4 linked regions of the Homo sapiens genome follow. The protein of the gene in region 3 purifies or fractionates together with the protein of the main gene of each other region. This does not show direct contact. Each region holds a gene or a part of one and is shown on either strand. Other genes may lie near its edges. The genes, in order: SRRM1, GINS2, PLEKHG4B and CSTA.

Region 1 (3,592 bases), on a different chromosome or scaffold from region 3:
ACCAATGCTATTATCATTTCATCGGCCTCTTCTTTTGAACCAGACCTGTTCTTTCTTCACCTACACTACAGATACGCATTAAGACTGGTATTATCGCCACTCATTTACAAATAAATATTCACTGAAAGTTAATCTCTAAGACCTGAACTAAAGAGATGTTTTCAAGCTTACTTCAAAAAAATAAAAATAAAAATAAAAAATAAAATAAAAAAGAAAATCACTTTCACATTGACCTTATTCTTTCTGGGAGTTCATCTGTATTGCCCATATTAAGAGTTTATGCTGGCTGGGCACGGTGGCTCACGTCTATAATCCCGCCAAGGGCGGGCAGATCACTTGAGGTCAGGAGTTCGAGACAAGTCTGGCCAACATGGCAAAATCCCGTCTGTACTAAAAATACAAAAATGAGTTGGATGTGGTGGTGTGCGCCTGTAATCCCAGCTACTCAGGAGACTGAGGCATGAGAATCGCTTGAACTCAGGAGGTGAAAGCTGCAGTGAGCAGAGACCACACCACTGCACTCTAGCCTGGGTGACAGACTGAAACTGTGTCTCAAAAAAACAACAAACCAAAAATCCTTATGCTTACCTTTCAGTGTTAAATTCAAATTTCTTTTAAGCTACATGCACTCACATATTAAGAATTTGTAAAAATCTAGCAAATCACTAGACTGGGAAAATGACATTCTAAACTCAATGTTTGGTTGGAGGGAGGAGCAGTGAACCAAAACTGAATGTTTAAATACAGTACAGCAAAGCAAAACTACATGAAGATCCTAGCTGAGTCATATACTACCTAAGGTGTCTCGGCAGCCTGGCCAATACTCTCAAATCGACATTACAGAAAAGAAAAGGTTATTACCTGTCTTTGTTTTATTTCTTCTTTCTTCAGTTCTAGGAAAGCAGAAGGGATTCCCGCGATGTTTTCTTGTGCACTTAGCAGCAGGGGCCACAGTTCTCCCATAAATTCTCGAGCATTTTTTCCATTCAAAAATCCAGTCAGGTTGATTTGCATCATTTTGGAGTCTGGATTCTGCAAAAAGACACGACAGGAAGAAAAACAGGTTACTTCAAAACCAACCAACCAACAAATCAACCAACCTAAAACTCATTTAAATTAGTATTTTTTAAGTCTACCATAGGGGCTTAGACATATATATAGTCCTTACTATTTTACAAATAGTCTTCCCTAGTAGCTTCTCAGCAATATAATCTCTAACAGATTACCAAATTCTCTCTCACTCTACCAAAAGCATCAGAGCAGCCTGTTAATCCTTTGTGGATTTCGTAAGTATTTTTAGACTCTGTGGCTGTTAGTGGGCCTTACATTTATTAACTTTAAAAACCATCATGAAACATCCACAAATTCTAGTATTTACTAACAAGAAAAGTATTTGCTTGCCTGGAAATTTTCCCCCAATGAGAAACGGAAAAAGTACATAAACTGCTCCCTAACACTACAGATAGCTTTGCATAAAATATCTATTGTCCAGTTATGAAAACTAACAAGTTATGCATGCAGTCTGTAACTTCTGAGGGCTAAGCTAAAGGCCTGAGTTTTATATAAGGAAAATCTATTATAACAATGCCTCAAATTCTCAACTGTCCACAAAGTGCTAAGAGGTCAAGATTTCTCAAAAATAATTGGGTTTTTAAATGCTAAATCCGTTGGTCAAGCAACAAGGTCTGTATAACAAGCACAGCTCAATAGCACAAAGCAAGTACAGATTCCAGGTGTCTTCAGTTTCTTCTTGGAACCTTGGGGGTTTGGAATCGCCAAGTCCCCTGTAGAGAAAGATGTTCCCTTGGCTTGCTTCCGACTCCCTACTGCAACTCAACCACCTTGAGTTTAATGTTATATCATTTATCTAAATTGCAAAAGACGAACAAGCAATAATGAGTACACAACCACAAAAAAAGAATTGTCTTAAAAAGTTCTAAACTTTAATCTCATGCTCACTACAAGGGGAATACTACCAGATACTTAGGTTTTTAAAATGCACTAAAATACACATCAGTAAAGCATTTCTCCAATAAAATCTATCTTCAATCATCATTTAAAAAACTTTCTCCCCTGTTCCTGGTTTTCTAAGATGCATATACTTTATAGAAAGTGCATTCTTAAAATTAGTCTTTAAAAATATTCAAAACAAAATACAAACACCAAATTATTTTAAAACTAGAAATACCTTATCAGTTGAAATGCCAACTGTTCTGTCAAAACATAGGGTGAACTCTTTGGGGGAAATGATTAATGTAAAAGTAAATTCACATTGGTATATATGCAAAAAGGTCATATGGTACATATCTTAACTGTCCTTTGGGTTGCTGTGGCAAAACAGAAACTGTCTTACAATAAGAATGTTCTTAAACATCAGTTATATCATCATATTATCTCATGTATAAAGGAACAATTATATGCTGCCAATTTGTCTGAAGTTTAAGTATAAACAAAAATCCTGTCTCTAAAATGTAACTGATGACTAGCTGACATGCAGCTACAAAGACCTTAGTTCCTTTAAAAACAATATCCAATCAAATCAGAATTGCCCCTCATGCTTCACATAAATGTCCATCTCATAATAGTATTTTAAAAGAGCAGTGTACAGCTTTACCCAATTGCTCTTTCCTGTTTGTGTTTTTTGTTGTTGTTGTTGATGTTTGGCCACTTTACACAACTCACCTCCAAACACACACTGCATCATCAAGGGAGTTGGGTCAGAGCGACATTGGGACACTCACTCTGCTGTGACCTAATAAGGTGATGGTGCTATACTTCAGACGCAAGGAATAACTTCCATTTTGGTTCAGGCCTTTTAAATCATAAATCACATTATCATTAGAAAATTGCTGTCAAAGTAACTTAACATGTAACAGCAAAATTACAAACAATAAGTTTGATTTTTCACCTGTGTAGCTTTCAAAACTATGCACCTTCACTAAACTTCCAGCCTTAATAGTTGTTTACAAAGTGAATTCTTTTCACAACAAACATTGTAAAATAACCCTTCTATATTTGCACTCCATAGAAAAAATTCAGTTTCCAAAGATTCACAAATTATATCACATATTCAGAAACAAGAGCCATTTGTATATTAGTACCTTCACTTCCAGCTGGTTGAATATAAACTCAATCACAACATCATCTTCAAACCCAAGGATTTCCGTTACTCTTTTTGTTATCCAAGGCTTTATAACCTCCAAATTTACTTTGCTCATGTCCACCTGATGAAACATAGAAACAATTAAGTACAACTTCACAATCCTAAAAAAAAATGCTCAAGTTAGAGTTCTGTCTACCAAAGTTCCTTTTAGCTTAGTTTTTTTGTTTGGCATAGTAGAATCTGCTAATTTTTTTTTTTTTTTTTTGAGACAGAGTCTTGCACTCTTGCCCAGGCTGGAGTGCAGTGGTGCTCAGCTCACTGCAAGCTCCGCCTCCCAGGTTCGTGCCATTCTCCTGCCTCAGCCTCCCAATTAGCTGGGATTACAGGCACCCGCCACCACGCCCGGCTAATTTTTTGTATTTTTAGTAGAGACAGGGTTTCACCGTGTTAGCCAGGATGGTCTCAATCTCCTGACATTGTGATTTGCCC
Region 2 (3,500 bases), on a different chromosome or scaffold from region 3:
AACCCCCCTAGGATATTGTATCGCGCCCAGGCTGGGGTGGCTCTAGTTTTGTAAGTTGTCTTGCTCCCTTCTGAACAAGGCTTAGTATAAATAAATTTAAGTCACTGACTAGTTTGATCACTTATTGCATCAAAGGTCTAATACTGACCAGGTGACTCACTCCTATAATCCCAGCACTTCGAGAAGCTGAGGCAGGGCGATCACTTGAGCACAGGAGTTTGAGACCAGCCTGGGCAACATAGTGAGACCTTGTCTCTACAAAAAATAAATGGTGGCATGTGCCTGTGATCTCAGCTACTCCTTGGGAGGCTGAGGCGGGAGGATTGCTTGAGCCCAGGAGGTTGAAGCTGCAGTGAGCTGTGATGGTGCCACTGCACTCCAGTCTGGGCATGAGAGAGACCCTCTCAAAAAAAAAAAAAAAAAAAAAAAAAAAGGCGGTAAAGGTAAATCACTTTGCTGTTTCCCTAAAAAAGAAAAAAAACAAAAGCAAAACACAACAAACATCAAACTTTTGACTCTAACATTGTTTTTAGGAATATCTTCTGCAGGCTAAAGCAGCGACAAAAATTTACCTTTCTTTTGGAGAGAAAGTTTCAAGGAGGAGGCCTCAAATCATCTAGATAATGATACAAATGTCATCCCAAAATGTTTTTTCATGTATTTGCTAGTTGATAATGTATTTGCCAGATAATATAGGCACTTGGTAAATTTGGAAGGTTTAATAAATATCTTGGTTATAATGATGGTAAAATGTATTAACTTCTAAATTTCAGAAAAGTTGGAGAAGATGAGGGATCATGAACGAAAGGAAGAAACTTTTACCCCAATGCCCAGCCCTTACTACATGGAACTTACGAAGCTCCTGTTAAATCAGTAAGTAGATCTCACCTCTTAGAGGCCACACCCAAGACTGGACTCGCCATGCCCTTCCCCTAACCCTCGTCCTTCCTCTCCGCTTCCCTGCTTATTGCCTCAGTAAGTGGCAACACTGGCCGCCCTGTTTCTCAGGTCAGTGACCATGAGGTCATCTGTGTACACACACCTGCCAGGTGCACTCTGTCTGTCTCTGTGTGTCTTTCTGTCTGTTCTTTGCCTTTCTCTGTCTCTCATTTTTCCTTTTCTCCACTTCCCGGTGAAGCCCTTGGCTCTTTTTGTTCTGCCTCACATCACTCGACATTGGACCCCAGTGTGAGCCACCAGCATCTCACAGAATCGGCAGTAGCCATTCTTTGCCATGTATGTGTTTTATTTAGCACAGCTTTACTCCTGTTTCTCCTTGGAGTAGGTGGATTTGAGTTTTTTTGTGTCTTTCGCAGGAAAGGCCAGAGGGCTTACATTTGCCTCTGTCCTTGGGTTACAGGAAAGCCCACTTCCTGGCAAAATCATGCTGTAGTAACTCCGTAGCTTGTTTGCCTTCATCCATACTGGCTCCGCTCAGCTTTCCATTCATTCTTCACATCTCAGCCAGAGGGGCCTTTGAAAGGCAGAACTGCCATGTGACTCCCTGCTTAAAATCCTGTCTTCCCTCTCGTCTACCTGAGCGTGGTGTTCAAGCAGTGTACAGCCTAGTGCGTGCTCCTCCTCCCTCTTTCACCCTCTCTACAGCTCTTTTCTCTGCTTCTGGAGGGCTCAGGCTCACACTGGCCCCTGTCACTTCTTCAAGCATTCTGACTTTGCATATACTGTTCTCTGCCCTGTAAGTCTGTCCTTTCCCTGCCCCTGCTCACCTCTGCTGGTTAGCATAACATGTCTCTTCTGGGTTCAGCACACATGTACTCTTGGCAGCTCTACACATTGCTATGGCATTTGCCAGTTGTAATTTTCTTGTTTGCCTGGCTGTGCCATCACATGTACCCATTCTAAATGGGCAGGGGCTGGGTCTCGTATGCATATGTCCCCAGTGAGATGCCTGCGGCTCATGTTTGTTGAGTGAAAGTGAAACTAGTGAAGAAGGCAGACAAGGGTGGATAATTTTGCTTGGGAGATACTTAGAATGTCATTTGTACAATTTCAAGCTTCTGAAGCTCCCCGGGTATCCTTTAACTGGGTTCAAGAGCAGAACTAGAATAAAAAATTGTGACACTAGTACTACTGCATGCTGCAGAGCAGCAGGAAGGGCTGGGAGCCCACTGAATGGCGCTGCTGAATTTAAAGGAAAAGTTGGGGACACAACATGGGCTTGTGCTTAGGCTGAGATGAGGCTGCAGTCAGCCCATGAATTTCATAAAAAGCTGAGAAGCAGCAATGCACCAAGCATTCCACTCGGCAGTGGCGTTTGTCCCATAGGCCTGCTTCCTGGTGTGGTGCGGGAGAGATGTGGGCCTGGGAGCCTATAGTGAATCTTCAGTGTGACCAATGCTCTTGACAGTCCATCAGAGCGCAGTAAGGCCAGGTGGTGCCAGAGAGGGCTCACAGAGGTTTGCTGGGAGTGCAGACTTGTAGGAGGTGGACGGTAGGGGAGAGGGCAGTGAGGCAGGAACTGATATGCTCAGGCAGAGTGTGAAGGACCTGGTGTAGCCGGGCAAGCAGAGATATTTGAGGATGTGTAGTACATTCATGGGAGCAGAGGAATGGAGGCATAGGTTCTGCTGCAGTGGCCAGCCCCTGGGAGGGGCATGTGGCCTCAGAGGGACCTGAGAGAGACTGTAGTGGTGGTGGGGATGGTAGCTGGAAGGGAGAGGATCTATAAACAGGCTAGGTAAGAATTTGGCATTAGCTAGGTGAGGGGGCCTATCCATTTTTTGTTTTTGAAGTTCAATATATTATGGATGTAGTTTTTATCAAAAACCTTGTTTTATAATTCATTCGGTTAAGGGACTTAATTTTACGTTTGTTCTATAGTTCAGCTGACGAGGAGTTGGGGTCCTTTGTCCTTTAACCTGCTGTTGAGAGCACAAGATCTAAATGTTTGGGTTTATAAATAAAACTCACTACATAAATTTTGTACCAGTGGTTTGCCACTTACTCATCAGGAATTAATTGTAGCATATGGAGAGAATGTCTAGCGTAACCTGTAATGCCTAGTGACGAACAATATTTGCTTCTGCTTTTATCGTGTAGTTTTTCTTCAAAGGTTAGTTTAAAATACTTCACAACGGGAGCCTCGACTTTGTGAAAGCCTTCCTTCATCCCTTGCTGGCTTTGAGCTTCTAGCCAGAATTTTGCTATGTGTAGGTGTGCTCACTGTATACTAATTTGCAGTTTCTTCTGTGATTTTTGAAACTTGTTTTTGTCTTCTCTGAAGAGCAGGAGAGTCCCTTCCCTTCAGGGCTTTTGTGAGGATAGAAATGCCAGGTAAAGTGCTGAGCCCAGTACCTGGCATGGAGTTGGCGTTTTCCTTCTCTAGGCTGTGAGCCCTGGATTCCTGGTGGGGAATAGGGAGATCTGCTCAACACTCTGTAAATGAGGAGCAATAGAACTCGACCTTTGAGCCAGCCCTCGAAACTGATTCCTTGTAGATGGAGGTTAGGCAGCACGGAATGCTGTTATCCTGAGACAGA
Region 3 (3,592 bases):
GTGTGGGCTGGGTCTGCGTGTAGCCACTGGCACCAAGGCTCGGACGGCCCACAGTGCTGCCTGCTGCTGCCTCTCATTCTCGAGAGCAGGCACCAAAGGACCGAGGCATTTCTCTAGTTCTTTTCCAAACTATGATTTGATCTACACAGGGGAAGAACATTTTATATTTAAACATGCGAAGAAGTCACACTCTAGGATTTAGCAGGACCGAGGGAGGGATGCGTCTTGGTCATGTCCTGAGTACACGCTGCACAGGGCTGACAGCCTGGCTGCGTAACCACCCGTGAATGAACACGACTGATGAGAGGTGGCACGGGCCTCTGAGGCTCAAGCTCCAAACTATTTTCATTGTTTGGAAAAGGACATTAAAATCATTGAACAATAGATCCAGGACTTTCCATTTTGAAACTGGTTAATATGGTAAGCATATTCCAGAAATATTCTTCAGGCCAGTGGCTGCTTGGCCCCTTGAGGCTGCCTGGGAAAGATGGGGGAGCCCCTGGCTGAGCCCTGCTGGACGGAGCGCCTGTGGCTACGCGCCCTGGTGACAAGACCAAGGTTCTTATTTTGGAGGCATTTACTGCTGGATTCAGTGGAAATGTCAGAGGTAAGCCCTTCATGTTGTCGTTAAACAGCAACACCAGGGGCGACTAGGGGTCAGATGCCCAGAGATGAGAGGCCTGTTGTGAAGAAGAGAACAGCTGCCTGGATCCATGACCATCAGAAGGTACCGAATGACCCCAGACATGCAGCAGAGGAGAGACAGACCAGCACATACGCTGTCTGTAAACAGAGCCAGAGTCAAGAAGAAAATCACAGCATCTTGATTCTTAGGAGCACGGGCAGAGTCTTGCAACTGCCAGGCAAGGGGCAGGTGCGGCTTCGGCAGAGCAGAGTGGGGGTGGCGCAGAGCTGGAGCCTGGCCTCCAACTTTGTGGAAAAATCGGCTGTCATTGGTTTCAAGATTTAAATACAAAAATTCAAGTCATAAAGGTTCTATGATGAAATACACTAATAATTCTATAACTTAAGGTAGAAAGGGCTGTTTAAAAGATAAGCAAAGCTAGAGGGCAAATGACAAACTAGGAAAACAAGCAGAACATGAAGGATCCATATAACATAGACAGAAGTGATGATCAACCCTAGAAAAACTGTCTAAAGCATGAACAAGTAATTCACTACAGAAATAAAAATAATAAACGTGTGAAGAGAATGTCCAGCTGTCGCATAGAAAATCTGAGGGCACACTGTTTAGGGGCTCCATTTCCCCACGGGGCAGCCGGCGGGAGGCAGGTGCGGCTGGAGTGCCACGGCTTATGCGTGGAAACCTCCAAAAACAAATGGTCTGACCGCAGCCATCCGAGCCTAGGAATGTATCCAGAGTCAACACCCACAGGCTGTGAAGGAAGCAGAGACACAGAGATGTTCAACATGGGGAGTTTCTAACAGCAGAGAGGGGAGGAGCCCAGGGCCTTCAGTGTGGGAGCCGTGTGAACATGGCTCGGGGACTGAGCTTGCAGCGCATGCCCACACACAGGGTGCCGAGGCCGCCACATGCGGCATCCCGTGTGTAAAAATCTATTTGTTTCTAATTTTCCCACAGTGTGCATGCACTTTTTAGGTTAAATATATAGAGACAGACGTGCACCTATACATAGCAGGATCGCCTGTCCGGTCACAACGTGGAGTTTCTGGGTGAAGACTGCAGAGTGAGACGTGTCCTCTTGAGACACCACTAAAGCCCTGCAAGCATCTTCCAAGGCGTAACACTCAGCACGGTGGGCAGAGAGCAGCCAGGGCACAAACCTGGAGGCCGGGAAGGAAGCGGGAGTGGCAGGGCCTGAGGAGAGCAGAGGCCAAGTCCCGAGACTCCACAGGACAGGGTGAGGGAGTGTCGGAGGGAAGGAGCTGGGCACCCTGCTCCACAGGGCCCAGGGTCTGTTCCCTGGCAGGTGAACACTGAGCTACGGCCAGGCTCTCCTTTCAGGCCGGGATTAGAGGAAAAGAATCAGACCGCCAGGGAGAAAATGCTAAAGATGCGTGGGCCACAGGCTTCCTAGCCAGGGGTCGCCAGGAAAGCCTCTGGCGCCAGAACAAACCCACAGAAGCCACAGACTGTGCAGACTCATCATGATTAGTATGGAGAGGGGACTGTTCAGAAAATAAGCCCATGGAGTTAAAAAGCAAGAGCAGAAACAAAAAACTCAATAATAGAGTTAGAGGGTAAAGCTGAGAAAAATCTACCTTACAAGGACAGCACACAGCCAGGGGTGGGGAAAATTAAGGCAACAGGACAGAAAACTCCAGAACCAGATGGAAGTGTGGAGCTGTGGGAAATGCGAGCGCCACGAAGGATGTCACAGAATTCCCAGAACAGAGGGGCGCAGTGCAGACACAAAGAGCACACCTGCCCTCGGTGCACCTGGGCGACCCTCAGGCACACCTGCCCTCAGTGCACCTGGGCGACCCTCAGGCACACCTGCCCTCAGTGCACCTGGGCGACCCTCAGGCACACCTGGGCCACCCTCAGGCACACCTGCTCTCAGTGCACCTGGGTGACCCTCGGGCACACCTGCCCTCAGCGCACCTGGGCAACCCTCAGATTCCAGAGCCCCGAGGACGACAGGAAAGTCTGTGGCTTCCACCGAGAAGCAGGGCACAGGCAGAAGGCTGGGAGTGGGATGGAAGCTAAGCACAGGCGCAGGGCCTTCCAGCTGGCGAAGGGAAACTAAAGTGACTGCTGGCCATGAAGGTGGAGTAGAGATGCTTTTAGATACCACGGCCTCAAAAATGCTCACCCCAAGATCCCTTTCTCTGGGAAGTCCTGGAAGTTATTCTGCATAAAACGCCAAAGTAAATGAAAAAAGAGGAAGACTTGGATACAGGAAATAGGAGACCACAGGATGGGGCAGAGTGGGGAGGGAGATGGAGGAGACCCCAGGAAGAGCAGAGGGAGGAGGGGAGATGGGGGAGACACCCCAGGAAGGAGTAGAACGAGGAAGGGAAGACGAAGGAGACCCCCCAGGACAGGCAGAGGGAGGAAGGGGAGATGGGGGAGATCCCCCAGGATGGGCAGAGGGAGGAGGGGAGATGGGGGAGACCCCCCCAAGGACGGAGTAGAACGAGGAGGGGAAGATGAAGGAGACTCCCAGGACGGGCAGAGGGAGGAGGGGGAGATGGGGGAGACCCCCTGGGATGGGCAGAGGGAGGAGGGGAGATAGGGGAGACCCCCAGAATAGGCAGTGGGAGGAGAGATGGGGGAGACTCCCAGGACGGGCAGAGGGAGGAGAGGAGAAGGAGGAGACCCCCAGGATGGGCAGAGAGAGGAGAGGAGATGGAGGAGACCCCCAGGATGGGCAGAGGGAGGACAGGAGATGGAGGAGACCCCCAGGATGGGCAGAGGGAGGAGAGGAGATGGAGGAGACCCCCAGGATGGGCAGAGGGAGGAGAGGAGATGGAGGAGACCCCCAGGATGGGCAGGGGGAGGAGGGGAAGATGGGGGAGACCCCCAGGATGGGCAGGGGGAGGAGGGGAGATGGAGCCAGGATAGAGCAGAGGGAGGAGGGGAGATGGAGGAGACCCCCAGGACAGA
Region 4 (3,592 bases), on a different chromosome or scaffold from region 3:
TGCACATAATCATTTTTAACTGGAAAACTTTCTTTTCCAGCCATGAAGAAAGCAGATTGAGAATGGAGGAAATGGTGCCATTGTTTTCTGAGGATACAGCAGGGTCCTCTTTCACATGTGTCTCCCCGGGACCTGGTCGTTACTAGGAGCTCACATTTGGCAGAACAGGGCTGATCTGTGTACATAGCTCTGTACTGAAACTTTCTTATGCTGAGCTGACTAGCTCCACTTACTTCACTTACTTTTTTTTTTTTTTTTGCTGAAAAAATCTTTTAAAATGTTTATATTTTAATAGAAATATTTGTTAAAGAGAAATAAGCCACACTGTGCCCTGGTCAAATAGTGAAGTAAAGATTAAGTAAATATACTTGAATATTTGTTTTTATTTTTAAAATCAGCATTATCATCTTCTTAATATATAAGGACAAACATGGCTCTCAAATATTCATGGTTGACTTGTTCAACTGGTTTCCTCTTGATAACTTCAATTAGAACTCGATCAATGCATTGTGTAATTTTTTGACAGAGCTATAAAATTAACTTTTAAACTATTTTAAATACTCCACTCTTTTAAACTATGCCTAGAGTGCCACAAGTTAAATCTAATTTGAGTTACAAAATAGTATTTACATTATATTAATTGAAGGGCAAAAAAGGTTTAAATTATTTTCCCAGCTAATGATTTGAGTCGTTACTTTAATTTATTTAATTTAGACATAGAGAATCATACAGCTTTGAGGTAGAATCAGCTTCAAGATACCATGTGGTCCAGCCCCACACCTTCAGGCAGATGAGACGTGATCCTCCCTCCTTACCTAAGCAGCAGCACAGCCACAAATCCAGCATGCCCTGAACTGTTATGAAATCTTTTTCTATACAATTTCCAGAAATCAAGAATCAATGTAATAAAACTTTCTGAATTCACAAGAAAAAAAATGGTGTCACATCATCTACCAAATTTGAGAGTCCACCACTTGGAAGGAATCATGCTGGGCATCTTAATTTAGGACAACCGTAAGGAAGGAATTATGTGGTAGGGAAATCAGGGAATATTTTACATAAAATGAGAAATACATCTTTTGGCGCTAAAGTAGGTGCTGAACTCTAACCTTAATGTAGTAATTTGTTCCAGCAACAACTTGAGTTTTATACTGCACAGCTTCCAATTTTCCGTAAGTCTCATTTGTTTTTTCTTCAAGCTGTGGTTTAACCTAAAGAAAAGAAAAGAGGAAACAAATAATCAAAGCTATATTAGACTCCATGTATGCAATGTACCCATCTGGGAACCTCATCCTCCTAAAAGTCTTCAAAGATGGTAATGAAATCTATGAACTATTTTTATTATTTCAATAGAAAACACCTGTTTTAATACAATTACATAGGTTAAAAAGTCAAATTTTGTTGCTTTAGGCTGAATTCACATCAACTCAGTGTGGTAATGCAATATAGGAGCGTTTTGACTGCTAAAACTCTAAGAGTTATATGTATCTTTGATTAATAAAAATCAGTGGAGCAATAATTACTACTTGATTAAAACATTATTTTAAAATGATTTCAGACTTAAAAGTTGTAAAATTAGTATAATGAATTCTCTTATATCATTTACAGTTCCCTTAATTTTGCCGTTTTACATAACATAGTATAATCACCAAAATGAGGAAATTAACATGGTATAATACTATTAAGTAGTCTCTAAACCTTATCAGAATTTTGCCAGTTTTCCTGAAAATGTCTCTTTTCTGCTCCAGGATCTCATGCAGGATCCTACATTGCATTTAGTTGTCATTTCTCCTCAGTCTCCTACAATCTGGGTTCATTCCTTTTTGTTCATGGCCTTGATGTTTTTGAAGAATACTGGCCTGTTAAATGGTAGAATGTCTCTCAATTTAGGTTTGTGTGATCTCCTCTTATGTTAGTATTATACATGTTTGTAAGGATAGCACAAACGTGATGTTGTGCTTAAGTGCATCCTATCAGGAGCTACGTTTCATTACTGGTGATGTTAATTTTGATCACTTAGGATGTCTGCCAGGTTTCTCCACGGTAAAGTTACCATTTTTTTCCCCTTTGTAATTAGTAAGTGTCTTGTGAGGAGTCTTGTTTCTCGCCATACTTTCATACATGAATTTTAGCATCCATTGATGGTTCTTGCCTACAACAATGATTAATTGTGGTGTTGGCCAAATGGTAATTAAAAAATCATTTCTTGTGCATTTATTATCTGGAATTCTGCCATAAGGAAGAGCTGTTCCCTCTCTCCTCTTTATGTAGTCAATTACTTATTTTATATTAATATGACTCATGGATATTTCTTTTACTCTGTGGATTACAATTCATTACTCTATTTTGTTACTCAAATGCCCTAGATTTGGCCGTTGGGAGCTCCTTCACCTGATGCCTGTGTTCTTTCAACATGCCTCCATCATTTTATAAGCACTTCCTTACTTTCTGACTCTACAAAAGTAGAGTCAGATGTTCCAGGTTTATCTTGAAGTTTCCTTGCCTCCTCACTGGAATCAACTATTTCTCCAAGGAGTCCCTGCTCCTTTTATTGGAGAACGGTATTTAAGACCCAAGATTTGGGTGCTGTGTCTCTTGTTACTAAATGTCATTGCTTCTAGGCCCACTCAGTGGAAAGGGCTACAAAATAATATGTGTACTCACACATGCACACATCTTTACGCATTTGTGTATGTGTGTGCATATATACACACATTTATCTGTGTGTCATTATATATATACATTATATATGTGTGTGTACGTGTGTGTGTGTGTGTGTGTGTGTGTGTGTGTGTGTGTATTCCTCTGATTAAAATCAAATACCACGGCCGGGTGTGGTGGCTCATGCCTGTAATCCCAGCACTTTGGGAGGCAGAGGCGGGTGGATCACTTGAGGTCAGGAGTTTGAGACCAGTGTGACCAACATGATGAAACCCCGTCTCTACTAAAAATACAAAAATTAGCTGGGCGCAATGGTGGGTGTCTGTAATTCCAGCTACTCAGGAGGCTGAGGCAGGAGAATTGCTTGAACCTGGGAGGCGGAGGTTGCAGTGAGCCGAGATCACACCATTGCACTCCAGCCTGGGCAACAAGAGTGAAACTCTGCCTCAAAATACATAAATAAATAAATAAATAAATAAATAATAAAATAAATCAAATACCACAGGACTCATTTAGCTTTTCCCTTTTCCTTATTATAACTCCTTTCTCAAACACTGAGGAAGAATCCTGGTTCTTATTATTTGCAATGTATTCGCCTATTTTCTCAGTTCTAGCATATACATAAAATAATTTCAGAATTGTTGACCTATACCCCTGTGGAAAACAATATACTAACTAGAGTGCAGTATTTGGGTATAATTCTTATAAAGACCCTGTGATTGCATGGGCTTACCTGGATAATCCAGGATAACCTCTCCATCTCCAGAGCCTTAACTTAATCACACCTGCAAAGTCTCTTTTGCTGTGTAAAGGAACCTAGTCACAGGTTCCAGGGATTAGGACATGGACATCTTTGGAGGGCCATCATTCTGTCTACCATGGAGGGATATGGGTTGGGTTTAAATGTCAGCATTCCCGAACCCAGCATGAG

Evidence for each region.
Region 1: the proteins of PLEKHG4B (region 3) and SRRM1 purify together in Homo sapiens (affinity purification with mass spectrometry; one large-scale study listed by BioGRID and IntAct). This does not show direct contact.
Region 2: the proteins of PLEKHG4B (region 3) and GINS2 purify together in Homo sapiens (affinity purification with mass spectrometry; one large-scale study listed by BioGRID and IntAct). This does not show direct contact.
Region 4: the proteins of PLEKHG4B (region 3) and CSTA purify together in Homo sapiens (affinity purification with mass spectrometry; one large-scale study listed by BioGRID and IntAct). This does not show direct contact.

What each region holds. Positions count from the first base shown.
Region 1 is NC_000001.11:24,646,299-24,649,890, reverse strand, and holds part of SRRM1 (serine/arginine repetitive matrix protein 1), read right to left. Parts: intron 3,225-3,592; coding exon 3,102-3,224; exon of another isoform or gene 1,033-3,101; coding exon 862-1,032; intron 1-861. UniProt on the Homo sapiens protein: Part of pre- and post-splicing multiprotein mRNP complexes. As a component of the minor spliceosome, involved in the splicing of U12-type introns in pre-mRNAs. Involved in numerous pre-mRNA processing events.
Region 2 is NC_000016.10:85,678,955-85,682,454, reverse strand, and holds part of GINS2 (DNA replication complex GINS protein PSF2), read left to right. Parts: intron 1-773; coding exon 774-873; intron 874-3,500. UniProt on the Homo sapiens protein: Required for correct functioning of the GINS complex, a complex that plays an essential role in the initiation of DNA replication, and progression of DNA replication forks.
Region 3 is NC_000005.10:158,132-161,723, reverse strand, and holds part of PLEKHG4B (pleckstrin homology domain-containing family G member 4B), read right to left. Parts: intron 1-3,592. UniProt on the Homo sapiens protein: Guanine nucleotide exchange factor (GEF) which specifically activates small GTPase CDC42 by exchanging bound GDP for free GTP.
Region 4 is NC_000003.12:122,335,166-122,338,757, reverse strand, and holds part of CSTA (cystatin-A), read right to left. Parts: intron 1,212-3,592; coding exon 1,110-1,211; intron 1-1,109. UniProt on the Homo sapiens protein: This is an intracellular thiol proteinase inhibitor. Has an important role in desmosome-mediated cell-cell adhesion in the lower levels of the epidermis.